Linked DNA regions of Homo sapiens. The protein of the gene in region 4 purifies or fractionates together with the protein of the main gene of each other region. This does not show direct contact. Each region holds a gene or a part of one and is shown on either strand. Other genes may lie near its edges.

What was found.
Region 1: the proteins of RPAP2 (region 4) and URI1 purify together in Homo sapiens (affinity purification with mass spectrometry; 4 studies listed by BioGRID and IntAct, with this or other methods). This does not show direct contact.
Region 2: the proteins of RPAP2 (region 4) and UXT purify together in Homo sapiens (affinity purification with mass spectrometry; 5 studies listed by BioGRID and IntAct, with this or other methods). This does not show direct contact.
Region 3: the proteins of RPAP2 (region 4) and POLR2M purify together in Homo sapiens (affinity purification with mass spectrometry; 5 studies listed by BioGRID and IntAct, with this or other methods). This does not show direct contact.

The regions. Positions count from the first base shown.
Region 1 is NC_000019.10:29,938,270-29,945,471, reverse strand, and holds the start of URI1 (unconventional prefoldin RPB5 interactor 1), read right to left. Parts: upstream 3,234-7,202; 5' UTR 2,925-3,233; coding exon 2,808-2,924; intron 1-2,807. UniProt on the Homo sapiens protein: Involved in gene transcription regulation. Acts as a transcriptional repressor in concert with the corepressor UXT to regulate androgen receptor (AR) transcription.
Region 2 is NC_000023.11:47,656,031-47,663,585, forward strand, and holds the start of UXT (protein UXT), read right to left. Parts: upstream 3,151-7,555; 5' UTR 3,085-3,150; exon of another isoform or gene 2,934-3,084; coding exon of another isoform or gene 2,898-2,933; coding exon 2,800-2,897; intron 1,834-2,799; coding exon 1,752-1,833; intron 1,610-1,751; coding exon 1,542-1,609; intron 1,261-1,541; coding exon 1,153-1,260; intron 1-1,152. UniProt on the Homo sapiens protein: Involved in gene transcription regulation. Acts in concert with the corepressor URI1 to regulate androgen receptor AR-mediated transcription. Together with URI1, associates with chromatin to the NKX3-1 promoter region.
Region 3 is NC_000015.10:57,701,554-57,709,801, forward strand, and holds the start of POLR2M (protein GRINL1A), read left to right. Parts: upstream 1-5,160; 5' UTR 5,161-5,289; coding exon 5,290-5,402; intron 5,403-7,160; coding exon 7,161-7,805; intron 7,806-8,248. Other genes in the region: GCOM1 (GRINL1A combined protein), read left to right, coding at 7,161-7,805.
Region 4 is NC_000001.11:92,329,964-92,337,246, reverse strand, and holds part of RPAP2 (putative RNA polymerase II subunit B1 CTD phosphatase RPAP2), read right to left. Parts: intron 3,857-7,283; coding exon 3,774-3,856; intron 901-3,773; coding exon 820-900; intron 1-819.

The DNA.
Region 1 (7,202 bases), on a different chromosome or scaffold from region 4:
CTTGTTCATGCCCCTTGTCTGTCCTCTTCCTCAGGTTGCCAATTTTTTGTCCTTTTTATTCCATGTTCCAGAGAACATACAAGAAAAAAAGAGAGAGAGAGCGTAAAACTTGTTATACTCCTTAGCTGAATTTGGAAAAAAAGAAAGAGCAAAACTAATGAGCAACATTTAAGCCACATTACCTACCAGCCCCTCTCAATCAAGGCTCCCAGAGAAGATTATGCCCTAAGCCTAAGGCACCCACTGTGTGTAAGGAACTCATTTCTCTCTCTGCATCTACAGCCAACTAGGTAGGTACCCTCTCAGGGAAAACTGAGAACAGTCATTCAAATCATTTTCTGCAGAGTTTAACTCTGTCTCACAAAACCCATGTAGGGAAAGGCCAAGAGCTTAAAAGCATGTTTGATTCATCTTTCATAAAGGAATACTAAGTGCCACATATGAAGCTACTATGACATTTTCCCCTTCTACACTCAGGATGTCACTACGCTTCTACTTTACTAGAACTCACTGTACTCCCACAACTGGGCCAGCTTTAAAGCCTAAATAAATTGCTTCACAAAAAATTTTCACTGCCGATTTACTGGGTAGTTTTCCTGTACTACACTATAATTACAGTGCAGCTATCTAATCAGTTTATTTTGTGGCCTTGTGGGTCTCCTGTCCACTGAAGCAAATGCTTCTATTAAATAAAGATAGATTAAATACTGACGCGCTTTTTCCTGAACTGGGGATAATTTTACACACCCATGACAGATATACGTGGTTATTTTGTGTGCCGAATTAACATTAACACAACACAGAAAAATAATTTGGTAGCACAGTCAATGTCTACAGAAAACAGTCATTCAGTTTGCCACAAGACTGTAACTGAAAAAGCAGTTACTCTCTCTTCCAATGTAACTCAACACGATACCAGAAAGCTGTTCAGAGCACCCCAAAAAGTATCCTTTGCATTTCAGTCACACTAACATCAGAATAAAACTAAGGATATCTTTTTAATATGCCAAATGGCAGAAAACATATCAAGTCAGCATTATGCACGTATTATACACTGAAGGAGGTGAAATTAACCCACTGCAGCAGAGGAAAGGCAATAGAAACACCATCCTCTGAGGGTCTGTGTCACATTCTCTGAAAGAATAAAAAATGCCAAGTTTTGGCAAAAGGAGTAAGATTTCATGAGGGGCTGTTTTTTCTTTCTTCTTTTTCTATCTTTCTCTTTTAAAAAAATACATTAATGTCTTCTAATTTAAAGACGCCAAACTAGTTAAGTTTTATATATATATATATATATATATATATATATATATATATATATATATATATATGAATGACAGGGTCTCACTCTGTCGCCCAGGGTGAAGTGCAGTTGCATGACCATGGCCCACTGCAGCCTCAAACGCCTGAGCTCAAGTGATCCTCTCACCTCAGCCTCCCAAGTACGTGGGACTACAAGCGTGCACCACCATGGCCCGGCTAATTTTTTGTATTTTTTTGTATAGACGGAGGTCTCCCTGTGTTGCCCAGGCTGATCTCGAACTCCTTGGCTTCAAGCAATTCCACGACCTTGACATCCCAAGCAGCTGGGATTACAGGTTTGAGTCACCACCCTAGCCACTGGATTTTTAAACCTTCATCTTGAAAACATGGCTTCCAAACCTAACAGTTGCGTTATTAGAGAAAAATGGCTGAGAAATGAAAATCCAACCCACAAAATAATTTAAACCAACCAGAACAAAGAAAGATTCCCGCAGTTCATCCCAACAGGTGGTTTCCAAGCAAACGAGGGTTTTTTAAGTTCTATCAAAACCCCCATCTAGTAGAACTGAGTATATTTTTGTATCTATGTAAACAGTCGTTCTTATACAGGAATGTTCAATTAAAAAGTTAAGAACTTTTAAACTGCTTATAGTGTTGAAGCAACTTCCTAACCCTTTATAATCCATGCTCTTCCAAACATGACATAAAATATTTTAAGCAAATTAAATACTGCTTTTCAAAGTAACAATTTCAAGACACTTGAGGGGACAGAATCAATCTGAAAGACCACAGAATCCACAGAAAAATCAGATTTAACAATAAAACTATTTCTTAAATTGGGAATACTTCTTTATATAAAGTCCCACTAGGAAACACAAAACTTTGTACCCTTTTCACCAGTAGTTTAAAACTCATTTATTATACGATGAAATTAAAATTTGTAAAAATGAGCCGGGTGCGGTGACTCAGGCCTATAATCCCAACACTTTGGGAGGCGAGGTGGGGAAGGGTAGGAGGGGGAGGATCGCTTGAGGCCAGAAGTTCGAGATTAGCCTGGGCAACATAGTGAGACTCTCTTTTTTTTTTAATGTTTAAATGGCATTATATTGTGACAAATATTAAATAACCAAATATTGCACAGGAAGCATTATCATGACAAACGCGGTAAAACTTTTCCGTGCAATCAAAGAGCAACAAACAGTACACATTTTAAGCAATGTTTAGGTCATTACAAGCTACAAATATTAAGGCGAACGCTTCCGTTGACAGCGTGCTGCCCCCGCCCCCAAATTCCCACGCGCTGCCGCACGCCTTCAGCTCAGAAGCCCCCTTTCCTGGGCAGGCGAACGGGCTGCACACCCCTCACTCCGCTGCGAAGTCAAAGGGCTGCAGACAAAGACAACAGAAGCACGTGACAAAAGTTTATCCCCGTTCCCTCCGGGGGCCCGGGCAGCTGGGCCTAGGCCACGCGGGGCGGCGGCCCAGAGCACAGGCAGGGGCAGCCCGGCGGGCGGAGGCGGAAGCGGCGCGGGGCTGCTAGTTACCTTTTCCTGCTCCTCGCGCAGCCGCGCCACATCCGGGGCGCGCAACGGAACCAGGGCAGGGGCCGGGGCCGAAGGGGGCGAGGGGTCGGGGGGCGTCTCCACGGTGGGCGCCTCCATGACGGGCCCGCGGGCCTCAGCGCGGCGTGTGAGTCCTGAACCAGCGCCTGCGCAGGCGGCGCGGCCGGCAGTTGCCCAGCGCCCGCGCGCCCGCCCTCAGGCACCGCGCGCCCCGCGCCCAGGAGGCCGCGCCCGCCGCCGCCGCTGCTGTTCGCGTCCGCGCCGCCCGCTGCCGCATCTCACACGTGCATGTCCCCGCCGCCGCCGCCCCGCAGCGGGCTCCGAGTAGCAGGCCGCCTGCCAGGTACCGAGACGCCTCTCCGGTGCGGGCCCAGCCAGGCGTCGCGTGGCGGCCGCGCCTCCCCACACGCCCCGCCTCTCGCGGCACGCCGGAAGCAAGCGCGCAGGCCCCGCCCCCGACACGCCCAGCTCGCGCAGGCCCCGCCCCCAGGGGAGTGCGCTTGATGCGAACCGCGTGGCTGGGGCTGGCGGTGTCCGCGCTGGGCTGCGTTTGTATCCCTCTGGAAGCTTACATTTTATGCCGATATTTCTTTCTTTTTTTTTTTTTGAGATTACGTATATGAAAGCACTAAATATAGGCTTTGGAACCTTAAAAAAAAAAAGCTTACATTCTATAGAAGCTCCACGCCCAGGAAACGCTCGGCAACAAGAGCCGCGTGTCGCCTTGAGTGCCCCATCTCCCTCCCCGTCGTTTGGCGCTGCATCTGTATCTAGGAGCTTAATTCATGTACTAGAGCTGTTTCATAAGCACATTTAATTTTAGCAAATTCAACTCTTTCTGTGCCTTTTTAGTGAGTTGAAATATACAATTATATTTTGCATGTTCATTAATTACTGTACACATTGTATTTTCTCTTATATAAATTAAGCTACTGTACTAATTTTAATATGCTGCTATGAATGGACTAAGAAATTTTCCAAGGATAACTTTGCCCCCACTTTTCTTTTTTTTTTTTTTTTTTTTAAGAGACTGAGTCTTGGTCTGTCGCCCGGGCTGGAGTGCAGTAGTGCCATCATTTCTCACTGCAGCCTCAAACTCCTAGACTCAAGCGATCTTCCCACCTCAGCCTCAGGAGTAGCTGGGACCACTGGCCCGCACCAACACATCCTGTTAATTTTTCTATTTTTTGTAGAGGCGGGGTCTCCCTATGTTGCCCAGGCTGGTCTTGACATTAAGCGAGCCTCCTGTCTTAGCTAACCTCCTGTCTTGGATTCCCTGAAGTGCTAGGATTACAGGTGTGAGCTACCACACCTGGCCGTTCCAATTATTTTAGAACTCCTGTGCCCACTTCCTCCTACAGCCCTTTGTACAGCCTCCTATTAACCTAACTGCGTGAAAGTGGCCTTGCCTTATCTGCTGCAGTCGCTAGCAGTAAAGATGGGTCGTGTTCGTTCCACATCATACAGACAAGTCTAGGCAGAGAGATGCCTGCAGAGTCACAGCCTGGTGTGCCTGCTTGCTCTGCTTCTCTTCCCTCACTCCTGCCCAGCTCCCAAGTCCAGATCCACCCTTTTTTTCCTTTTTATGGCTTCAAAGGAAGAAAGCAAGGACAACTTGGGAAAAGATAAATGTTCATTCCTGTCTTTTCCTCACTGCATATCCAACCATCATCACCTCTGGAACAGCCAGGACCTGACCATTGTTACCATCTCTTCTACCACCACCATCCTCTCTCCATCCCCAGCCACCTCAGCAACCATTGATCTGGCCTTGCTGCCCCTACTCTTGTCCCTTGTAATGGAGATCGGCTGCTGCCCACCCCACTTCCCCTCGTTTAGGGGCTTAACCCGCGACCACATAGTCCTGTGCCTGTAGGAAGCTGACCCACCCCCTAGCTCCAGGCAAAGGGGGTGATGCATCTCCCTTCTAAATAGTTGGTTCAAGAATGGGTGTGCGATGTCGTCCAAACAGAGACTTCCTGGAGGCTTCTGGGAAGGTTCTTTTTTTTTTCCTCTGTTGCCCAGGCTGGAGTGCAATGGTGCCATCTTGGCTCACTGCACCCTCTGCCTCTTGGGTTCAAGCGATTCTCCTGCCTCAGCCTCCTGAGTAGCTGGGACTACAGGCGCGTGCCACCACACCTGGCTAATTTTTGTATTTTTAGTAGAAACAGGGTTTCACCATGTTGGCCAGGCTGGTCTCAAACTCCTGGCCTCAAGTGATCCACCCGCCTTGGCCTCCTAAAGTGCTGGGATTACAGGCAAGAGCCACCACGCCTCTCCTGAGAAGGTTCTTCCTCATTCTTCAAAAGTGCTCCCATAAGGAATCAGTCTATCCCCTTGGCCAGGAAGTGCAAAGCAGGTAGCCCCATGTGTATCAGACAGCCCCCCAGACCACCTAGACACTCCAGTACTCAGAATGAAGTGCGATCTGTGGTCAGCAGAGCTGAGAACAGAACCCAATCCTTGACAGCATCACAGAACTTGATCCAGGGCTGAATCAACCAGCTCTGGAGTCTGCATCACTTCTGAACTTCCCGTTTAAAAGGCCAGTAAATTTTCTAAATGACCAGGACAATTTTCTATCATGAGCAGCCAAAGACATCCAATTCGCACACCTCTAAACTATTATCCACTCAGCAGTCTGGGTGAGCTTTTCAAAGGGGATCAGGTCATGTCAGTCTCCCTTCTAGGGCCCTCCATGGCTTCCCACAGCAACCAGAATCAAATCCAGACATCCTACTAGAATTCAGCATTGTCGGACCCACCTTCCCCACCTCCAACCAAGCCCCCTACCACTCAAGCCAACCACAACAATTTCTCTCTTCTTCAGATACTCCAGACTAGTTCCTGCCTCAGGGCCTTTGCACCTGCTGATCTCTCTGCCTGCAATATTTCTCCCATATCTTTCCATGGTTGCCTCCTTGCCATTACTCAGGCCTCAGTTCAAATAATAACAGGGCTTTCTTGATCTCCTGTCCACAAAAGCCCCTCCCCTCTCCTCTAGGCATCTGCCCTCACCTCACTTTTTAAATTTTCTTTGTAGCACTTATCACACTTTCAAATGATCAGCTTTGGCCGGGCGCAGTGGCTCATGCCTGTAATCCCAGCACTTTGGGAGGTGGAGGCAGGCGGATCATTTGAGGTCAGGAGTTTGAGACCAGCCTGGCCAACATGATGAAACCCCATCTCTACTAAAAATACAAAAATTAGCCGCCGTGGTGGCACACACCTGTAATCCCAGCTACTCGGGAGGCTGAGGTAGGAGAATCGCTTGAACCTGGGAGGCAGAGGTTGCAGTGAGCAGAGATCATGCCACTGCACTCCTGCCTGGGCAACAGAATGACACTTCGTCTAAAAAAAAAAAAAAATTGGCAAGGCGCAGTGGCTCACGCCTGTAATCCCAGCACTTTGGGAGGCCAAGGCAGGCAAATCACCTCAGGTCGGGAGTTCAAGACCAGCCTGACCAACATGGATAAACCCCACCTCTACTAAAAATACAAAATTAGCCAGGTGTGGTGGTGCATGCCTGTAATCCCAGCTACTGGGGAGGCTGAGGCAGGAGAATCACTTGAACCCTGGAAGTGGAGGTTGCAGTGAGCCGAGATCATGCCATTGCACCCCAGCCTGGGCAACAAGAGTGAAACTCCTCTCAGAAAAAAAAAAAAATGGTAGGCCAGGCACAGTGGCTCATGTCTGTAATCCCAGCACTTTGGGAGGCTGAGGTGGGCAGATCCTGAGGTCAGGAGATCGAGATCATCCTGGCTAACATGGTGAAACCCCATCTCTACTAAAAACACAAAAAATTAGCCAGGTGTGGTGGCAGTCACCTGTAGTCCCAGCTACTCAGGAGGCTGAGGCAGGAGAATGGCATGAACCCGGGAGGCAGAGCTTGCAGTGAGCCGAGATGGTGCCACTGCACTCCAGCCTGGGTGACAGAGTGAGACTCTGTCTCAAAAAAAAAAAGTAAATATTATTTTATTACCTTATTACTTTATTACTTATTATTGGTTAATCCCTTCTTCATGTGCCAGGCCCCCCACTGGGAATGGGAGACAAGAGTTGACCAAGGCAAGCACCAGCCCTGTTCATAGATGTTGGAGTCAATAGAGGGCCACTAACATGGTTTGGATATTGTTCCCTCAAAATCTCATGTTGAAACGTGATCCCTAATGTTGGAAGTGGGGCCTAGTGGGAGGTGTTTGGGTCTTGGGGGCGGATCCCTCATGAATGGTTTGCTGCTCTTCTGCAGTAATGAGTTCACATGAAAGCTGGTTGTTTAAAAGAGCCTGGCACCTCCTCCTTCCTCTCTTGCTCCCTAGCTCTTACTTCCACTTGCCATGTGACGTGCAGCTCCCCATTTGCCTTCCACCATGATTG
Region 2 (7,555 bases), on a different chromosome or scaffold from region 4:
GTGGCCCACGGAAACCAAAAGATTGGACACTCCTGCCTTAAACTCAACTGGAGCCCACATTTTCTCTCCCCATCACCCCCAACACAGATCTGCTTCAATAACCACTTTAATATGCTTCCAGCATACCCTTTCAAATTATTTCAACAAACACAAAGCCGGGTACAGCAGTGCGCCTGTAGTCCCAGTTACTTGGCAGGCTGAAGCAAGGGGATTGCTTGAGCCCAGGAGTTTGAGGATGTAGTATGCTATGATCGCAGCTGTAAACAGTCACTGCATTCCAGCCTGGGCAACACAGCGAGACACCATCTCTTAAAAACAAAAACACAGAGTGTCTACTATATGCTTGTACTACTCTAGTCACCTGGGTATAAGGGAATAAACCAAATCTCCCCCTTTGTAAAACTTACATTCTAATTGGAGGAGACAACATGAGAAAGAAATTACATAGTAAATATTAGGGGGTGATAAGTGTTAGTAGAAAAAAAGTAGAAGGAGGGGAATCAAGCATGCCAGGGGCTGTAATTTGAAAGTTAGGTTACAGAGGGCCTTGTTGAGGAAGTGACATTTAAGCAAGACGAGTGAGTGAGGAGAAAGGAAGCCATGTGGGTACTGGGGGAAAGAGCAGTGCAGGCAGAGAGAACAGCTACAGCAATATCCCTGGGGTGGGATCATTCTTGGGGTGTTGAAAGAAGCATGTGAAGGTGAGTGTGGCAGGAACACAGTGAATGAATAGTAAAATTAGCAGGAAGTGAAATCATAGGTAACTAGTTTTCTTGTTACCAATTCTAACAGGCTGAGACCTCATGGATCTGGTCATAATTGTATTTATGTATAACAGTATAGTCCTTCTAGATTGTAAGCCTTCAAGGAACTCTTCTGTCTTGTTCACTGCTGCATTCCCACTGCTAAGCACAGTGCCTGGCATACAGAAGATGCCCAATAAATGTTTGCGTGAATGAACAATACAAAGATCATTTTTTGAGTGCTTATTATGTGCTACACATGGGCTTTGCAACCCCATTTCTTCAGCCCCAGCTCTGAAGAGGAGGGGAGATGAGTCCTTAAGTATCATTCCAGGCAGCCATGGGTAAAGGGAGAAGAGTGTTGGAAATGGTGGTGTTTTTACACACTATCCTCATGGAATGGACTTACTCTGTGAGGAGAGAGCTCTTACGATCAATGAACTTGAGAGCTTCTGCCAGTGTCAACTCCAGGAAAAAACCATATCCCAGGGCCACATAGATGCGTGAAGTATCTGGGCTGAGGAAAGAGAGGTTAGAGGAAGTGGGGAGAAGTCCTTATCACTGTTTAGCATAGTTTATGTTTTGCTCCCCACCCTTCCCCAAATTGAGGCTCTGGGAAGGCAGGGATTTTGTCCTATTTTATTCACTGTCACATCCCCAGCACCTAGCTTATATCCTACTGGGATATAAAACCTCGCATAGTGCCTGGTACATAGAAGATACTCAAAAAAATATAAGTTGCATGAGGGAAGGGGTAAGCTGAACCCTGTGGGCTCAGAGGGGCGGGTAGACACTCACACCACTGTGTCAACGAAGAAGTTACAGCCCAAATCCACCTGCATATATAACTCCGAGTGCTTAGCTTCCTGTGGGGCCAGGGAAAAAGAGGTAGGGGTCAGTGGTGAACTCTTAGGTCAGGTGACAGGGTTGGGTCTGGAGTCTCTCTTCCCATTTCCCTCCCTTGCCCACACATACCAAAAAAATGGTACCCAATCCCATAGTCTTTACCTGGAGTCGCTCAATGACATTTCTCAGTTGAAGGTATTTGGCCAGCTGCTCATATACCTTGTCTCGATGGTCCAGCACCTTTCTGATGGGACGAAAGTACAATGGTGACCAATAGGCAGCCCCATTCCTCCTAGTATACCTCATATCATGACCCTCTGAGACTCTCATGTCACCATACACTGAAAAGGCTTTTTAGTGCATAAGTTAATTTTCGGCTCTGGGTCAGACTGCCTGGGTTTGGATCTGGGCTCTATCCTTTATAGATGTGTGACTTTGGCAAGTAAATAACCTGTTTGGGACTCAGTTTCCCCATTTATAAAATACAGATGACAGTATTACCTTGTAGAGTCATTAGGATTAAATGAGCGTTTACTACAAAGCATCTAGAATAATGCTTATCAAATGGTAAACTCTCTATATACATGTTAGTTATAATTACTATTATTATACTCCCAATACTGAACTCCAATCATAATGTCCCATCCTCACCCTAGAAAAATCCTCCATCCCTTTTAGGATGCTCATAGGCCTAGTTCTGAACACCTTATTTCCTGCTTAGATTAACAAAGATTGCAATAATATTTCTTCATACTCATTGAACCTCTACTATGTTTCAGGCATCCATGCTAAATTCTTGACAAAGATGGGACACATCAAAAACTCAAAACCACTGCATGGGGAAGGTTCCAGAAAACTCCCCATTTCACAGAAGAGTAAAGTTTATAGGGCACAGAAAGGCGAGGTAGGACGTATTCACAAGGATGAAGAATGGCCGAGCCAGGATTCGAACCCGAGAACTGTGGCTCCAGAAAACAAGCCTTAATCTGTTAAACATCGGAGGCCGCGCATGCGCTGACACGCCCCTGCTATGAACGCCACGTCCCAGCCAAACTGCACCCCGGATGTCGTCCCCACTTCTCGCTCCAAGGAGCGCGGGGCCGGACTCTGAACGCCTCGCCCGCCAATTCAAAGGGTTGGCCCTAACTTTGAACGCCCCACCCACCACGTGGAATGTTCCAAACGCCCCGCCCCCCGCACTGTCACTCACCGCAAGTCCCGCTGCAGCACGTCACTGATGAAGGTCTCGTAGCGCAGCACTTTCTCCCCCGTGGCCTCCACCGCCCGCCGCTTAGGGGGCGTCGCCATGATGGGCTCCTGGGGAGTGGGGAGGGGGAAGACCATGTTGACCGATCCAGTTTGGCCTCACACACAGTTCATCTCTACCCTCTCAACGCTGGGAATCGGCTTGTCCGGCTCAAGCTGGAGGTTCAGCCTTCCGCCCCTCCCAACTCGGGGACCCGACCACCCAGGGACACCCAAGCGCGGCCTTTACCTCAGGCCGCCAGCAATAAGAACGGTTGGTAGGAACCGCGGCTTCCGGGTGGCGCGGGTGAATGACGTAAGTGGCAAGCGCGCTGGCCAACCAAATAGCCAGTTGGGGAGGGGCGGGCCTGAGTGGAAGAAGACGGGCCAAAGGGGAGAAGAGAAGGGCAGGGCTTCACGGAATCCGAGGAGATCAAAGAAGACTAGGGCGTGCGAGCAGGGGCCGTCTGGCAATAAACCGGCCAATGGGGGACTGCAAAAGCGGCGCCTGGAGCCTATGGAGACCGTGTGTGGCTGGTGGGGGTGGGATTTAATGGGATTTGGCGGGTTCTAAGGTAGGCGCGACGCACAGGTGGAGGTAGAGGAAGTGAAGAGTTTAATATTTAAAAGGACCTAAAAATTGACTATGGTTCTGGTCTATAAGGAAGATCCCGTGTGATCTGTCGGCCTGGATATTGATTTTTCACACGGGAGGTTTGGATTTCACTCCTGGCAATGGGACTGAGTATAAGCATTTAAAAGGTTTTAAACAGAGACAGGTTTTCTAAAATTCATCTTTGATAACTCCAGCTCTGCACTCGCAACCCATAAGTGAGGCTCAAGTGGAAATTGACAACACTCTCTGTCTAATCACCTCGTTTGATAGTCAAATGGAGAGGGTGGCTGAAGTCCTCTGCCGAAGATTGGCCATCTTGTAGTTAGGCATAGTTCCCATGTTTTTATTTAAATGGTAAGGTTTTTGTGAATTTATTCTTATGCACTAGAGTGACTGAGTGAATTTATTTTTCAGGTTAGATTTTCAAACAAGAACTTATAACCCAGCAAGAATGGGCCTTTGCCTGGAGAAGAATCCAGACCATGGGATGAATCCCCAAATGCTATTTCCATCTGTAGAGCCTAGAGCACCCACCCCTACCAAGGAAGTCTTCCCAGATAATTTGTGTTTCATATGTAAAAGCAAGTTTTTTTTTTCAAATGCTCAAAACCCAAGCAAGTTAAGCCCTTCCTTCCTTCCTTCCTTCCTTTCTTTTCTCTCTCTCTCTCTTTCTTTCTCTCTCTCTCTCTTTCTTTCTTTTTTTTCTTTTTTAGACAGGGTCTGTGTCCCCTAGGCTGGAGTGCAGTGGTATGATCATGACTCATTGCAGCCTCAACCTCCCAGGCTCAAGTGATCCTCCCGCTTCAGCCTCTGGAGTACCTGGGACTACTGGCATACACCACCACGCCCATCTAATTTTTAAAAAAGTTTTTGTAGAGACAGAGTCTCACTATGTTGCCCAGGCTGGTCTCAAACTCCTAGGCTTAAGTGATTTGCCCACCTCGGCCTCCCAAAATGCCGAGATTATAGGCATGAGCCAGCACACCTGGCCAAGTTAAGCTTTTCTTTGCCCTTAGAACGAGATAATTGTAAAATGAAAACATTGAGATTAGTTTTTTTGGTCTGTAAATCTCATGTTACATATAGTTTAAATTACATTGAGTGTGATTGGAATAGATACTAGGTAGAAAAATATTATCTAGTTAATCTATACCACTTTCCTGTGAAAAGAGAGAAAAGAAGACACATATTTATTTAACAGAGAACACAATTCTGATGGGCTGGAGATGAGTCTGTGTAAGTCTATTAACTTATATTTCACAAAAAAGAATTTTTTACTTAAAAATGTATTTCCAACTTTATTTTTACATTTCAAACCTACAGAAAAGTTGACAGTGAACACTCATATACCCTGCACTTAAGTTCGCCAGTTGTTTTATTTTGAATTTTTAAAATTTTTTTAGAGGCAGGGTCTTGCTCTCTTGCCTAGGCTAGAATGCAGTGGTGTGATCTCGGTTCACTGCAACCTCTGCCACCGGGCTCAAGCAATCCTCCCGCCTAAGCCTCCTGCATAGCTGGGACTACAGGCATGAGCCACCATGCCCAGCTAATTTTTTGTAGAAATGGGGTTTCACCATGTTGCCCAGGCTGGTCTCGAATGCCTGAGCTCAATCAGTTCGCCTAACTCGGCCTCCCAGGGTGCTGGGATTACAGGCGTGAGCCACCATGCCCGGCCTGGATTCACTCGTTGTTAATATTTGATCACATTTGCTTTCTTTCCAGACCATAGGATAATTGTTGACATGGCTGCATAGCATTCCATTCTTTGGATGGCCTCAGATTTTTGAGCCACTCCTCTGTCACTGGATATTTGAATGTGTTCAGATATTTTCGTTGTTATAACCAGGATGGGATAAGTCTTTGCTGTCAAATTTTTGTGCGGAGCCATGATTATTTCCTTGTGATAAATTCCTAGAAGTAGAATTTATAGATTTTTTTTGAGACAGAGTCTCACTTTGTTGCCAAGGCTGGAGTGTAGTGGTGTGATCTCTGCTCATGGCAACCTCTGCCTCCTGGTTTCAAGTGATTCTTCTGCTTCAGCCTCTGGAGTAGCTAGGACTACGGGCACACACTACCATGCCGCCTAGCTAATTTTTGTATTTTTAATAGACACAGGGTTTCACCATGTTGGCCAGGCTGGTCTCGAACTTGTGGCCTCAAGTGATCTGCCCACCTCGGCCTCCCAGGGCGCTGGGATTACAGGCATGAGCCACCTCACCCGGCTGAATTTATGGATTTAAAGGAGGTCACTGCATTGTAAATCAAGTGTTGAGTGACAGTGGTACGCATAACAGTGAACCTCCTCATCTAAGCTCTATATCAGGGGTCAGCAAATTATGGCCCCTGGTTTGCTGACCCTTTACAGTTTCCTATAGCCTGCAAACTAGGAATACTATTTACATCTTTAAAGGGCTTTAGAAAAGTAAAACTAATATTTTGTGACACATCAAAATTATATGAAATTTGCATTTTAGTGTCCATTAATAAAATTTTCTTGGAACACAAGTCTCACTCATGCGTTTACATATTGTCTGTTACTGCTTTCACGCTATAATGGCAGAGTTGAGTAGTTGCCAAAGAGACCACATGGTATGGACATCCTAAAGTATTTACTATCTGGCCTTTTACAGAAAAGGTTTGCCAACCCCTGCTCTGTACAATGCCTGTCACCAATACAGAGGTTGGGGCTCTAACCAGGTGGGTCTCCCTGGCTTCCACTGGCGACCTCTTAACCTGGCTTATGGGTGCACATTTTCAGGCTGGTGCTTCTGGGAGATATGAGAGACACAGTCAGCTTGTTTCCAGCTCCAAGATGTGAGATGGACTGTGTCTCTTATGTCTGCATTTGAATCTTCTCTCCTTTCCATCCAACTTCCTGCCCCCAGCTCTGACTCATAGGTCTCTGTCTTTGCCTTTTCCCAAGAAGAGCAAGAAATGACTAAGGCCCAGGGGAGGCTGCATTTCCCTGATAGCTAATGATGTAGAACATCTTGCCATGTGCTTATTTGTCATCTACATGTCCTTTATGGTGAAATGTCTCTTCACATTCTTTGCTCATTTACCAAATGGATTGCTTAAAAAAAAAAAAAACTTGAGTTTTGAGAGTTCCTTACATATTCTAGGTATGAGTTCTTTGTCAGATATGTGGTTTGCAAATATTTCCTCCCAGGCTGTAGTTTGTCTTTTTGTCCTCTTAACAAGGTCTTTGTTAGAGCAAACACATTTAATTTTGAAGTCTAGTTTATTGATTTAAAAACATTTTTTGGATCATGCTTTTGTTGTTGTGTCTAAGAACTCTTCACAAGCCGTAGCTCCCAAAGACGTTCTCCTGTGTTTTATTTTTAAAGTTTTTTAATTTTATGTTTGACATTTAAATCTGTGATCTGTTTTTAAAAAACAGCTTTATTGAGATGTAATTCACATACAATAAAACCCACACATTTGAAGTTTACAGTTCAGCAGTTTTTAATATATTCACAGAGTTGTACAAACATCACCACAATCTAACTTTATTTTTTTAATAATTTTTTTTTTTTTGAGACAGGGTCTCACGCTGTCACCCAGGCTGGAGTGCAGTGGTAGGATCTTGGCTCACTACAGCCTCAACCTCTCAAACGCAAGCGATCCTCCCTGCCTCACCCCCTCAAGTAGCTGAGACTATAGGCATGTGCCACCACGCCGGCTAAGTTTTGTATTTTTTGTAGAGATGGGGTTCCACTGTGTTACCCAGGCAGGTCTTGAACTCCTGAGCTCATTCGATCCACCCACCTCGGCCTCCCGAAGTACTGGGATTACAGGCGTGAGGCACCACGCCCAGCAATCTAGAGTATTTTCATCACCCCAAATAGAACTCCTGTACCCACTCCTCAGTGTGTTCTCCCCACCCCAGCCCTAAGCAACCACAAATTTAATTTCATCTGTAAAAATTTTTGTATTCTGCACATTTCAATAAATAGAATCATATACACTATGTGGCCTTTTATGCCTGGCTTCTTTCACTTAGTATAATGTTTTTAAGTTTCATTTGTCCATGTTATAATACTTATTAGTACTTTATTCCTTTCTAGGGCTGAATAATAGTCCCTTGTGCATATATGCCACATTT
Region 3 (8,248 bases), on a different chromosome or scaffold from region 4:
TAAATACCTAGCAGAAGAATGGCTGGGTCAAACGGTATATTTTAAGAAACTGCCAAACTGGTTTCCAAAGAGGTTGTACTATTTTGCATTCCCATTAGCAGTGTATCAAAGTTCCAGTTGCTCTACATCCTTTACAACACTTGGAATGGTCAGTCTTTCTGGTAGGCATGTACTAATATCTCATTGTGATTTTATTATTTATTTTTTCTTGGATATAGAGTCTTGCTATGGTGCCCAGGCTGGTCTTGAACTTCTGGGCTGAAGCAATCCTTCCACCTCAGCCTCCTGAGTAGATGAGATTACAGGCATGAGCCACCATGCCCAGCTTCTCCATGTATTTTTAATTTGCATTTTCCTAATGGCTAATAACACTGGTCTTCTTTCATGTGCTTATTTTTCACTTATATATCTTCTTTGGTAAACTGTCTTTTCAAATCTTTTATTCCCTAATCTGGAAAGTGGTGCCCATCACTTCTACCATATTTATTAGAAGTGAGTCAGTTAAGTCCAGTCAACATTCCATGGGAGAGGATTACATTGGAGTGGGACACTGGGGGCCATCCTAGAGGCTGTCTACCACGTGTGGCTTCCCATTTCTTTTAGGGTAAAATCCAAACTCCATATCCTGGTCTACAAAGCCCTGCTAGATCTAGCCCCAGCCTTCCACATTGCTTTTTTTTGTTATTTGAACATGCTAAGCTCCTTCTCCTTTTACGGCCTTAGTATCTTCTCTTGCCTCTACTTGGGATGTTTTTCCATCAGATTTTCCCACAGTTGATCATTTGTCATTTGAAGTCCCAGCTTAAAAGTTACCTCCTCAGAAAACCCAACCTCAGTCACCCAATCAAAGTAGTCTACCAGTCACTCCTTATCAAATCACTCTGTACTAATTCTCTATGTGACTCTTAGTACTGATAGAATAAAAGTTTCAATGTAACAGGAAATTTCTTTACCTCATTCATCGTTATATCACCAAATCCTAGAATAGCGTTTCACTTGTGATAGACGCTCAATAAATATTTACTTACTGAACAAATGAATGAGATCTCCAAAGAAGCAAGAACAGATGGGATCCATAGTATAGCTGAAGGGATTAACCTTGGATAAAGTTCCTGTGACTACTGCTGTTTAATAAACGACCCCAAATTTAGAAAAGGCATAGTGAAGATGTCTCTGCTCCACAATGTCTGAGGCTTCAATTTGGATGTCGTGAAGGCTGGAAGTGACTGGACAGTTGGGGCTGAAATTATCCAAAGTTTTGCTCACTCACATGTCTGGTGGTTGATGCTACCTGTTGGCTGAAACTTCAGCTTGGGATGATAGCCAAAACATCTACGCAAATGCAGACTTCTTCATGGCTTGCTTGCTGAGTTCCAAGAGTAAGCACTTCAAGAAAGCTAGGTAGAAGTTGCATCACCTTTTGTCATCTAGACTAGAAAAATCACTTTTGCTCTAGTTATAAGCACGCCCAGATTCAAGGATAGAGAAGAATAACCCCATTTCTTGACAGGAGGAGTGTTAAACTCACATAGCAAGAAGAACACATTTAGGATGGGAAATATTGTTGCTGCCATTCTGGTCAACTCCAACTATATCATGGCCAGTTTTGTGGCCATTCATGCCCCAACAATGACAATCAAAGCAAGAAAACAGAGGAGAACAGCCTGGAAATTCTAAACATTTATGTTTATCAGTTTTACAATTGATTGTCAGTTTTTATCTTCAACTAGGTAAGGACAAGTGGAAATCATTCCCAGGTCTTGTTTTTGTTCAGTGTCCTTGTGTAGCTTCGTGGCAGTGGGATGTCTATAGGTCATCTTGGCAGCACCTCACGTGACTAATGAAATTTTCCTTTCCCTTAATTCTGTTTTGAATTTTCCTTCCTTTCAAACGCAGCCAAATTTATTAGTTTACTCTGAGAGCAACATTCAGGAGATTAATCCAAGTACCACTGGAAAAGTGATTCATCTTTTTAATGAGCACTGAAAAACACAAACAAAAAAACCCCAAAACACTTGCCCAGATTCATTTTTATAACGGATGGGCTCTTTGACAGGCAACTGGAATTCTTTAGCAGAGATTAGCTGTCTGTGGTTTGTGGGCTCCATTTCCTTTCAAGTGTTTGGTTCAGCTGCAAACAGGTATAACCTGTAGCACTCATTGTTTCTCTCTTTAGTCTTCATTTCTCCATTGTTAAATTTCTCCATTTTATATCTTCTTCTCTAGACACTGCTGTGAAAATTTGTGTCCTAGATATTTATTTTTTGTTTCATAAATTATAAAAGAATACTTTGCCTATTTTCCTTTTGAAGTGTAAATAGGCTGCAAGTAGTCTGCTTCTGTTGTAGAGTGATGTTTTCCACTTGCCATGCTTCCTGGTTACTGACAAAATTAGACAGTTTGTGCTTGGATGCTGGTGGGAATTTAGATCTGTATTATGATATCTTGAAGCCCTAAGCCATACTGTATAAAAGATTCTATCCCAAACCACTGAAAAATCTACACAGTAATGATGATTAATTATATAAAAAGCTTAAGATTTGCATATAAGAAACATTTCATTAAGAGAAAGAGGAATATGGGGGAAAGGTAGAGAAAAAAATATGAGAGAAGGAGATTGTGTCAATTACTACATGCTATGTTCCTGAGAGGAGACAGAAAAAGTACAATTATAGCTCCCTCACAGAAAGGACTTTACAATTTTGTTAGGAAAGGAAAAAGAAATCTCGATGCATAACACAATTAGAGAAGTATAATATGCTTCATGCAGTGAGGTTCCAACTTTAACTAAGCCCTATAATTGTGCTGAAAAGAAAGAGAAGTTTGGTTTGGAATAACATGGGAAGGTTCAGGGAGGAGGTGAGACTTCAGCCAAGACTTACAATTGGCAAGGGGAGAAGAGATAGCCTTCCACAAAAGGGTAACAGAAGGGGGCAAAATTCTGAGGCCTAAAAGAAAGGCATCCTTGCCTTGGGGACACCTGTGGCCTACAATCAGCACATGGGGAGTTCACTACTGTGGGAGAAATAAAGGCCTCCAGCTGGGGTCCAGGGGTGGGGTGAGGGAGGCTTGCGGGGTGCTTATCACTGTAAACCAAAAATAAAATTTGAAGGTCCGCCCTCAACCGTCTGAATGGACTTCCTCCTGTAGTCCAGGGTCCTCCAAATTTAACCTAAAAGACTGGCTTAGGCCATGATGGGAAGCTGAGGTCAGACATGCCTCATTATGCCCTTCTTTCTTTTAGAATCCAGGAAAAGCTACACAGCATTTAATATCAACACATATACCTTGAGTCTGATAAGAAACACAACTTACTTTCTCTGAAGCCTGCTAACTGGAGGCTTCATCTGCATGATAAAATTTCGGTCTCCACAAGTTCTTATGCTAACCTAGACATTCCTTTAAATCAATTACCAATCAGAAAAAAACTTAAATTTACCTATAACTTGGGAGCCCATCTTGCCCCACACCCGCTCTGCTTTGAGTTGTCCCACCTTTGTGGATTAAGCCAATGTTTATCTTAAATGTATTTGATTGATGTCTCATGTCTCCCTAAAATGTATAAAACCAAGCTGTGCACCAACCACCTTAGGCACGTGTTCTCAGGATCTCCTGAGGGCTGTGTCACGGGCCATGGTCACTCATATTTGGCACAGAATACATCTCTTCAACATTTTACGGAGTCTTTTTTTTTTTTTTTTGTCAGTACCACAGACAACCACCTGACTCGAGGACCTTACCTATTTCTCATTCAGCCAATGCTGCAGCACGTTATTAACGTCCTTGAAAGCAAGTCTTATACAGAGAAAACTTATTTTGATATATTAATGAATCTGATCAGAATGGACCAGATTGGGGGGATAGATAAATGGTTGCAATTGTGCTCCCTGGAATAGCTTTGGAGTTTACCTAGATCTTCTGTCTCTTTAGGACAGAGCTGCTTGTGTTTATATAGCATCTTACACAGGATTGAGACAACTTCAATTTCCTATATCAAAAAATCGGGGGAGGGCGGTGGGTTATGGGGGTGTTCAAACCTCCCAAGTGACATCTGCTGTGACTGCATGTCTTCCTACTCTTTCCACTGGGATGCACCTCTGGTAGCTGAACTATAACGAGAAGGTAAAAGCTGTGTCCAATACCTATTAAGCTGCCTTCTTCTCAACAGCTGGGGAGGTGGCGGGGGTGGGGGGGGGCGGAGGGAAGTCTTTTCAACAGTTTTACACATTTGGAAATAGGCCTAAAGTGAAGAAGGGGATTTTCAAATTGGTGTGTTGGAAAAGGGGCTGGGCTTTTGAGTTTGAAATCTGGTGCTGTCACTTACTGGTTTTGTGCCCTGGGAATATTTATTTCAGTTTTCATGCCTCTGTTTTTCTATAGGCAAAGTAGAAAATTCGAAAAGGTCCTCAACGAGTTTGTACAGCTGCTCCCACTCCCTCATCACCTCTTGTGGGCCTTTGGAAATGTATGTTGGAGGAGACATTTTGGATTGTTGCAATGACTTGGGAGTGCCATAGCACCTAGCAGGCAGAAGCCAGAAACACCAAATGTCTTAACAATGCTTGAGGCGGTGCTACAAATGAAGTCCTTCTCCAAATGCATTGAGCCCCAAGAAAAATCGCTGATTCTGAGGAACCTTCCAACTTTAACAATTTCAGGACGTCCCTAAGCTGAGCTAGGAGGCACCACGCACAGGCCGGAGGCACCACGCACAGGCCAGAGTCTCCCAAATCCTGTCCCGCACTCTCTCCCACCTTATTAATGGCCAGCTCATCTTTCAAGTTTCGACTTGAACCACTTCTCAGAGATATCTTCCCAGGTGCCCATCCCAACGTTACTATTATATCATAATTTGATTCTCCCTCCCCCCATCCCCCCGCCAACTCTGTAAACCCCAAGTATAACACAGGACGTTGCTATTTGTTGACTGACACATAGTGCTTGGTGAGGTCACGCTGGCGCTGAATACTTTTTGTATAAACCGACGAACAGCTGATGACCGCATGAATGCTCACACAAGGGGAAAGGGCGCCAAGCCAAGGAGCCGGCGTCATCCGACGTAACTTCCGCCCTTTAACGCTCCTGCGGACGCCCCCTTCTCCCAGTCCGTGTTTGTTTCCGGAATTTCAATAAAGCTCGATTCGGCTCGAAGAAGACCCCGTTCTTCCGGGAAAATGGCGACTCCCGCTCGTGCCCCGGAGTCACCGCCGTCCGCGGATCCGGCGCTAGTAGCGGGGCCTGCCGAGGAAGCCGAGTGCCCGCCGCCGCGCCAGCCTCAGCCCGCGCAGAATGTGCTCGCTGCCCCGCGGCTTCGAGCCCCAAGCTCCCGAGGACTTGGCGCAGCGGAGTTTGGTGGAGCTGCGGGAAATGTTGAAGCGCCAGGAGAGACTTTTGCGCAACGAGTAAGCTGGGGTCCCGCGGAGTCTCCGCCAGGCTCCTTCAGCTCGAGCTCCCTGGGCGCTCCCCTCCCCTCCCGCACTCTGTTCCCTTCCCTGGAAGGTGACTTTGACTCAGTCACATTCGCTTCAGTCCTACGGGCGAGTGGACGGAGGGCTTGCTGCGGCAGAGCCGTGCCTCTTCCTGGCCAGGCACGTATGCCTGCGAGGATAGCTCGGATTGAACGGCTACCTGGCGTTGCAGGGAGTTAGTAGCCCCTGGTCGGTTTTATTTACCCGGGGACTGTGGTGGTTCCATGAGTCTGCTTTCTAAACCCTTTTGTCGCCCGCACCCCTAACCCATAACAGATTGTCAGCTTCATCTCTGGATTCTAAGCTTACAGGAACCGTAGGAAATGGGAAGAGTGGGATATGAAGAGGGGTTTATTAGGCCGGGAAAGTTCGACCCTCATTCAGCTGGCTGGTTGAACGGATTTTAGCAAGGGAGCCACGTAATAAAAGTGATTTTGTTTTTTAGGCAGCTTTGTTCAGCAGCTTGTTGCAAAAGATGGTTTGAAGGAATAAAAAGCAGAAGACAGTAGAAGGATATTTTCAGAGAGACTTCCCACGAGACACTTGTAAGAAAGTGAGCTAGGAAGGGATTGGGAGAACTTTTAAGCATGGACTAATTTAAATGCAGTTGACAGAGATGGCTGAAGTTTCCAATCTATATGGAAGACCACTAGCAAAAATAGGAAAATTCAGGGAGAGGAATAGATCCAAGGTTGATTTTACTTAGGGTGTGCAGAGTTGAGAGGAGAGCAGGACAGACATTTGGTTAATCGAAAACCAAACACTTAAAAGCTGGAGAAGTAGTCATGAGGCTCAAGAAAGAGAGAACCCTGGAAAAATACAGAAAACAGGAATTTCAGCTGTAGAGTGTTGTTAATAGTTGAAATTGTGGGGATGAATGTAGTGTCAAAAAGAACAGAGGACTTAAGGTGTAATTTTTTCTTTCCATTTATTGTATAGTTAAAGAAAAGGGAATCAGAAAAGGAACTCTGTCATCCAGCAAAAGGGACAAATAAATAATTGGTTGGGATCAAGACATGTGTTTTGACCTTGTGAGAATAGGTTTTGAATGTATAGCAGTGAATTAACTTTTTGGTCTCAGGACTCCGTTATACTTTAAGAATTATTGACATCCCAAAGAGCTATTTTATGTGTTGTATCTAGCGAAATGTATTTACTTATCAGAAATACGTCTGAAGTCTTTAAAACATAAGCATACACAAGCACACATTCTATTCTAGAACAATGATGTCATCACATGCCATGTAGCCTCTGGAAAACTCCACTGTACCCATGCGAGAAAATGAGAGGGAAATAATATCTTAGTATTATTATGAAAGTAGTTTTGACCTAATAGGCCCATCCCCACACTCCACCCCATCCCCAAATTTTGGAGATTGCACTTTAATGACTGCTGGTTCTTGGAATGTCTTATGTGATTATTATATGCTTAAAATACTTTTGCTGAAATTCTAATTTGCTGAGACAAATGAGGCATATATTCCCTATTCTTCCTGCATTCCCTTGTTTTTTGGGCTATTTGGATAATGACCATTTTAATTGTTTTATTCTTGTTTTGGGGCAGTTAGAAATCAGATATTTGACTTAAAAATCAGCTTTTCTTTCTTTGAAGATAATGCCTTGCCTTTTTAATGTTATATCTCAAGTTAAAAAAATGGCTGTAATGTAATAGTATTCTTTTCCATTTGACAGAAAATTCATTTGCAAATTGCCCGACAAAGGTAAAAAGATCTTTGACTCTTTTGCCAAACTGAAAGCTGCCATTGCAGAATGTGAAGAAGTTAGAAGAAAAAGTGAACTGTTTAACCCTGTTAGTTTAGACTGTAAGCTAAGGCAAAAAGCAATTGCAGAAGTTGATGTGGGTACAGATAAGGCCCAGAATTCTGACCCGATACTTGATACTTCATCACTAGTTCCTGGATGTTCCTCTGTAGATAACATCAAGTCATCTCAAACCTCACAAAACCAGGGACTTGGACGTCCTACTCTTGAAGGTGATGAAGAGACTTCAGAGGTTGAGTACACAGTGAATAAGGGCCCAGCTTCCAGCAATAGAGACAGGGTACCACCTTCATCTGAAGCTAGTGAGCATCACCCGCGGCATCGTGTTTCAAGTCAAGCGGAAGATACTTCCAGCAGCTTTGACAACCTGTTTATTGACAGGTTACAGAGGATCACCATTGCGGACCAAGGTGAACAACAGTCAGAAGAAAACGCAAGTACTAAGAACTTGACAGGCCTTTCCAGTGGGACTGAGAAGAAACCTCATTACATGGAAGTGCTAGAAATGCGAGCCAAAAACCCAGTGCCCCAGCTGCGTAAATTTAAAACCAATGTGTAAGTACCCTCGGAAACAGGCCTGTAACAGGAACGTGATATTTGTTAAACTCAAAAATTTACGAGAAACTGGGTGTGGTGGTGCTTGCCTGTAGTCCCAGGCTACTCAGGAGGCTGAGGTGGGAAGACAGCTTTGAGTCCAGGAGTTGTAGACCAGCTTGGGCAATATAATAAGACCTTTTCTCTTAAATAAGTCAGGAGAATGCTCTAAGTTCCGTGGGCTTTGTATGAGAACTACTTGTAGTTAGGAAATAACATGTTGTGGCAACACTGAGACCAGCCTGGCCGGAGTAGAAGATTCATGTTGAAAAATATTTAGTTTTGAAACCAAATAATCGACAAGGTCTTTTAAAGCACATGGGGGAGTGTTAAATTTTAGGATGCTTAGCCAGTATTTCATAATAAACACAGAGTTGGAGAGAATTTATTATGACTTCTTTTTT
Region 4 (7,283 bases):
ATCTGACTGCTATTGTTGACAACAATAGACTATAATAATAAATATATATGATAAATTTCTTGGATGAATTAATTCTTCCACCCTAGAAGTTTATTCTGTGTCAGTGCAACATCAGCCACAGGCAAATGTTAATTTTAATATTTGGTCACTGGCATTTGGCTGAAATGTGTATTTGGTACACCTCTACTAATAAGCCATTTAGAGGCTTATTGCTATGCTTCTTGGTAGAGAGAACCTAGTCTTAGCCTGAGTGAGTATTTTTATCTTGATAGTTTTAGGAAAAATCACAACAGTTTCACTCACAATTGATATCAATTCTCTATTCTCCCTTTCTTTATAGTTCTTAGCACTTTAAGTCTGTTCTGTGTAATTCAATATTAAATTGCCCACTGTCTTGTACTGTTTACTGTACTCACATGATCTTCACAGAGGAGAGTTCTTCCTTTAGGGTGGCACTATGTTTCTTTTACATTACCCATAGTGCCTGGTGCAGTGTGGGTCAGCCAATATATATTTACTATTTCACTTAAACCCATAGTATTACTGGCTTTGCATCATAGATATAATTTTCCTTCTCAATTTTAGGCTATTCCGTAAATAAACTATCCAAAGTGAAATATATAATGGCTTGAGCAAATAAAGGTTGCATTCAATAGAAGAGAGAAATAATGTTGTTTAGTGGAGGAGAAAATAGAATACTGTATTTAGATCTGTGACATTGAAAGGTAAGTCACTTACTTTCTCTGTGCCTTTGGATTCTGCAAGGCAATAAATAAAGTCAAAATAATTGAGAAGGATAATTGTAATATAAACACTAACCTGAAAGTTCGAACAAGATTTTTAAGTTGTGTGTAAATATCTCCCAATGTAATCTGAAGAGGAACCAGAAGCCCAGGCAACCTGAAAATTTAAAAATTACATTTATTTTAAAACAAAATTATATGGAAACTTTTTTTGGGTCATGCCTAGATCTGAATTTTCCATAGCTAATAATGGCATTTAGATGGAAGCAGTCATGATTTAAAGGTTAACCTAGGTTATGATTGGTGAGAACTCATAAGGAAACATTCATAGTAACCCCACACTCCACTTTGTAGTCTGTTACTGAGTGTGAAGCACTGAAACACAAAATCATTTTGGCAGCTATTTAAATTCTTGTCCCTAGTTTTACTTACCTGTTTATTTTCAAATATTAGACCAAGATGGAAAGAACACAACTGCCCCCAAAATGGTCCAATCTGAGAGTGTGGTATATTCTTCCTTACTAAATCCCCATGGTGGGAGTGAAAATTAGTACCTTTTTAGGAAGCAATTTGACAATATATATTAACAGTTTAAATGTGTTTGACCCAACAGTTTTACTATGAAAAAAATTTAATCTAAGGAAATAATCAGATGAACATAAAAAATATGCTTGTTGCAGAAATAGCTTTAGTAGTGAAAAATCAGAAACAAATGTGTATCAATAGGTGATTGGTTAGATAAATTATGCTATACCCATTTAATAGAATAAGACATTTAAAATAATGTGAATCTATTTTTTAATATAAAAAGATATTCATGATAGATGTGAAGTGAAAAATGTACATAGTATTATCCTATTTTTATAAAAACATGTATTATATAATACCATTGTACTTCATATATATCAAGCATATTTCATTCCTTCTAGGTTTATCCACAGAGAGAACCAAATAGAATGAATATACATATGCCATATATATGTCAGGGATATACATCAAAATATTAATAGTAGTTATTGTTGAGTGGTGGGATTACAGGTAATTTTTACTTCCTTCTTTAAACCATTTTGTACTGCCTCATTTTCTAAAGTATGTGTTACTTTATTTTTTTAAGCTTCTTTTTAAGACCAGTGTGATAGTATAAAAAGTTTCACACATGTTCCAAAATAGAAAGAATAGTAATAATCCCGTATATCTATTTCCAGATTCAATTTCTTAATTTTTGCTACCTTTGCTTCATTTTTCATTCCCTTCAGCACCCAGGCTGGAGTGCAGTGGCATAATCCAAATGTCAGGCAATAACAAATGCTGGTGAGAAATGTGGAGAAAAGGGAACCCTCATACAGTGTTGGTGGGAATGTAAATTAGTACACCCACTATGGAGAACAGTTTAATCACGAGCATAATCATAGCTCACTGCAGACTCAAACTCTCGTGCTCAAGCGATCCTCCACTTCAGCCTCCTGAGTAGTAGCCCCACAACACCCGATTAATTTTTATTTTTATTTATTTTTTTGAGATGGAGTCTCACTCTGTTGCTCAGGCTGGAGTGCAGTGGTGCGATCTTGGCTCACTGCAAGCTCCGCCTCCTGGGTTCGGGCCATTCTCCTGCCTCAGCCTCCTGAGTAACTGGGACTACAGGCATCCGCCACCACGCCCGGCTAATTTTTTTTGTATTTTTAGTAGAGATGGGGTTTCACCGTGTTAGCCAGGATGGTCTTGATCTCCTGACCTTGTGATCTGCCTGCCTCAGACTCCCAAAGTGCTGGGATTACAGGTGTGAGCCACTGCACTCGGCCGAATTTTTATTTTTATTTTTGTAGAGATGTGGTCTTACTATGCTGCCCAGGCTGGTCTTGAACTCCTGGCTTCAGGTGATCCCCTTGCCTCAGCCTCCCAAAGTTCTGGGATTACAGGCATGAGCCACCACACCTGGCACATTTTTTTCTTATTTTGTAGTAATATTTTAAAGTAAATCCCTGTCGTCATGTCATTTGACCCCTAACTGTTTCCATTTTTATCTCTAAATACAAAGGCACTTTCTTATATAATCACAATAAAATGATCATAACCATCCAAATTAACAATTCCTTAGTGTCATCTAATATACAACATATTTTATTTCCTCTGATACTCTGAAATAAACACTTTTTACAATTGGTTGGTTCAAATAAAAAACCAAAAAAGGTCTAACTTTGATAATGAGAAAAAAACCCAACAGCTTTCATAAACAAACAACAAAAAACTCCTATACCATAATTAGTTTTGTCTTCACTCTTCTTTATGCCTTGGTTAATGTGAAATGTTTTCTGTATTTTCAAACTGCTACAAAATAAAACTTCATATTCACAACCCTTAAATAATGACTGACACACTTTTCCATGTTTTCTGCTAAAATAAGAAAATGCAGGTTGAAAAGTTCAACACAGCCCTCATACCTCTGGGAAAAAAAAACCTTCAAGTTCTTTTTGAAAGAAAAACCAAGATAGCAATTTTTAAATGTCATTTATGACTGGGCTAATTACAAGAACAATAATTTCCACCACGGGAAGTTTAAAGCTAAAGTGCAACGTTGAGTTGAACAAAAACTCATGTTGCTGAGTGTGAAATGGTTCTAAGGATATGCATGCAGAGTGACTTAACAGACCCTTAAAACTTTGTAATAACATCTTATTTGCATCTGAAACTGCTGTGACACATTTACCGCAAATCAGTATTTAAATGGGTCTAGCTTTGATATTTTTTCCCTGACTTCACTGATTAGGTGGGAGTAAGGTAGTTTGGTCTTCTAAACCCACAATCTCAACCTTCCTCTTTATGATGTGCCTCTGTGTCCTCTACACAAAAATTTGTATTTCTTGGATAAAATATCTTAAAAATCCAAATTTCTTAAGTGAAGAAATCCATGTGAACTTTTCACATTATTTTTCAAAATGTTCAAAATCTGAGGATAATACTTACACATTATGAGCTTAAATGTCAAGTTAATTTAAAACTACTACAAAGCTGGAATGGCAATTACATACTTACACTTTACTCAACTTTTCAAGTACGATGCGTTTTCTAATCTGGTTCTGGGAACTTGAGTCTATCAGTGGAAAGGTGGAATCATGCTGAATCACATTTTTAAACAAAGCAAAACAGAATCATAAGTTTACATTCTTTCTTTGATAAGCAGAACAATAAACATTAAAACACAAAAGTTTGTATCTGTGGCACAGTAGGAAAATAACTAGACTTGAGAATTAGATTTAAATTTGAGTATCAACTCAGTTGTTAGGCTGTTGTGAACTTCTTTGAGTCATTTGCCCTCTTTGGAGAGTCAGTTTTCTCATCTTTATAATTGGGATATTAATACCTCCTTTATTAAATAATAAAATGTAAACAAAAAGATTTTGTAAACTGCTAAGTGCTGTACAAATGTAGGGGATTAAAATATTAAAATTAGCAAATACTATAAATATATTATGAGGAGTTCAGTCATTATGTCATTTGACCCCTAACCATTCTAGAAATGGCAGACAAGATAATTCAAACCGACTCTCTCTCTGAGAACTGAAAAAAGTTGGGGGAAAACAATCCACATTTGTTTGAAACACATTTGTTAGCATCAGAGAGCTAACGAGGCTATAAAGAATTACAGTCTGAGATCCTGGAGAAGGTAATTACAGATAGAGCACTAATTTTCTAATTAGATATTGAGAAATTGAGCAGTTTTTCTAATAAAAAGAGTTCAGGGTATCCTTCAAGAAGGCAGGGGTATGGGCAACCTTCCCCAAGTATGAGACCAGGACTTGGAAAGACCATACTCTAGGAATAACAGTAAGAATAGGAAATAGACTAGTTCTTTCAGGGAGTGAATCCCACCTTGAAATCATCTTAATCTCTGATTACATTACAGTGACATGGAACTGCTACAAATCATGTCAGAAGCAAATATAAATCTATTCTAGAGGAAGATAACATCATCCTGAGTCTCCAGTTATCTCTGTAATTTTTAATATACAATGTTTGGCATATAATAAAACACGACAATATGATAAAAATCTGAAACAGCCTACAGAGATCAATCCTCAGGGAATCTAAATAATGAAGTTATCAGCATTATTTAAAATACATGTTTAATATATTCAAAGAAAAATTATGAGGTTGAAAATTTTTGACAGATAATTGGAAACTACATAAAATAACAAAATGAAAACCCTAGAATAGAAAAATACGGTATTTAAAAGTAAGAACTAATGGGGAGACATAAAAGCATAGTAGAAATGGCTGAAGAGAGAATGCTGAATAAGAAAATATCCAGAATGAAGCACAGTCACCACTCCCCAAACACATAATGTAAAGCACAAAGGAGATTAAGAGACCTACAAGATACAGTAAAAAAAAAGACTAAAGAGAAGAGGCAGAATGGAATAGAAGCAATATCTAAGAGATAACTGGGAACATTCCAAAACTTACAAAAAAAAACCTTAAAAGAAGCTAGAGGAAGAAAACACAATACTTTCAAAGGAGTAGCAATAAGAGATACAAATGTAAGCCAAAAGACAAGGGAATGATATTTTCAATGGGCTGAAAGAAAATAACTGCTCATCTAAAATTCAATATAGAAAAATATCTTTCAAAAGTGAAAGTAAAATAATTTTCTGACAAAGAAAAACTGAGAAAATTCTTTATCAACTGATACTAAGAGAAGTATATTCTTCAGGCACAAGGCAAATGATCTCAGATGGAAGAATGGGGATAGAAGAAGGAATGAAAAACAATGAAAGAGTAATTAATTGAATAAATCCAGCTGAGTATTGGCTATAAATAATCTTGCAATATATTTGAAATTTAGAGAAAATAAAAATATCCAATAACAGAACATAAGTCAAGAGGGATAGATGGAGTTAAATCATGCTAAGGTGCTAATTGTCCAGGAAGCAATAAAAGTATTAACTTACATTAGACTTTAATAAGACAAAGATTCAGGTTTTAACACTTAGGGTAACCATTTAATGATCAGTAAAAGAGTATATAAAAACAATTTAACAGAGGCTAAAAAATGGAATAATGATTCAATGCAAAAGAAAGCAAGAGAGAAAAGGAAGACAGAATAAGTGGGACACATAGAAAGAGGAGTGAGATGGTAGATTTAAACCCAAATACTGTATACCAATTGTGACATGAAATGCAAATAGATTAAATTCTCCATATAAAGGACAAAGATTATCAATCTAGACAGATTGTCCTTGACCACATTAATACAAGAATGTTAATGTCAGCAAAGTAGACTGTAAAGAAAAAAAGCAAATAGAAAGGTTGCTCCATAGTGATATGAGTTTCAATTCACCAGGAAGACATAACAATTTTACATTTATACCCAATAACATGGTCTCAAAAAGTAAAATTTGCAGAAATAAAAGTAGAAATAATCAATCCACAATTAAGGTGAGAGATTTTTAACTCATCTTTCTCAGTGACTGATGGAATGAGCAGACCAAAACCCAAACCCAAACCACCACACCCCAACAGTGCTTCTCAAATGTTAATGTGCATGCTCATCTTCTGGGGATCTTGTTAAAAAGTAATTCTCATTCAGTAAATATGGGGTGGGGATAAGAGTCTGCATTTCTAACAGGCTTCTAGATGATGTTGACGCTGCTGGTTCCATGGACCACACATTGTATAGTAAGCACTGTATTAGTCTATCTTTGTGTGTTTCTGAAAATTTCCATAACAAAAAGTTTTTAAAAATTGACTACCCACAGGCCAGGCGTGGTGGTTCACACCTATAATCCCAGCACTTTGGGAGGCTGAGGCAGGCAGATCACTTGAGCTCACGAGTTCGAGACCAACCTGGCCTGGCCAACATGGTGAAACTGTGTTTCTACTAAAAATACAAAAGTTAGGCAGGCATGGCACGGGTGCCTGTAATCCCAGCTACTTGGGAGGCTGAGGCAGGAAAATCGCTCGAACCCAGGAGGTGGAGTTTGCAGTGAGCCAAGATGGCACCATTGCACTCCAGACTGGGCAACAGAGAAGATTCCATCTCAAAAAAAAAAAAAAAAAAAAAAAAAAATTGACAACCCACAAAGAAAATCAGAGGAAAAGATAGTTCAATGAGTGATCTTCTAAACATTTAAAGAACTAACATTAATTTTAGACACATTCTTCCAGAAATGGAGGGAACATTTCCCAACTTGTTTTACCAAATGATTACAACCAAAACCTGATAACGATATTACAAGAAAGGAAAATTATAGGCAGTGCAAGGTATCTTCATTCTGAACAATTTTCACCCTTTTCCACCTGTCTTTGTACTTCAGAAGGCTGATCTGTATGGGCTGCATCAATGGGCTTCCTTGCTCTCTGGCTTTTATCTCAGTTTTGCCAATGAAGAATAAGAAACTGGACGGTGCAGAAGAGTCATTCCCACTTGGTCCACTACAAGCAGCACTTCCTTGGTACAAGACCTTGTGGTCCACTCCTACCTTTTTCCTTGAGGTCTAGGGGTGGTGAGGGCTCTCAAACTATGATTAGTGTATCATTCCTTTG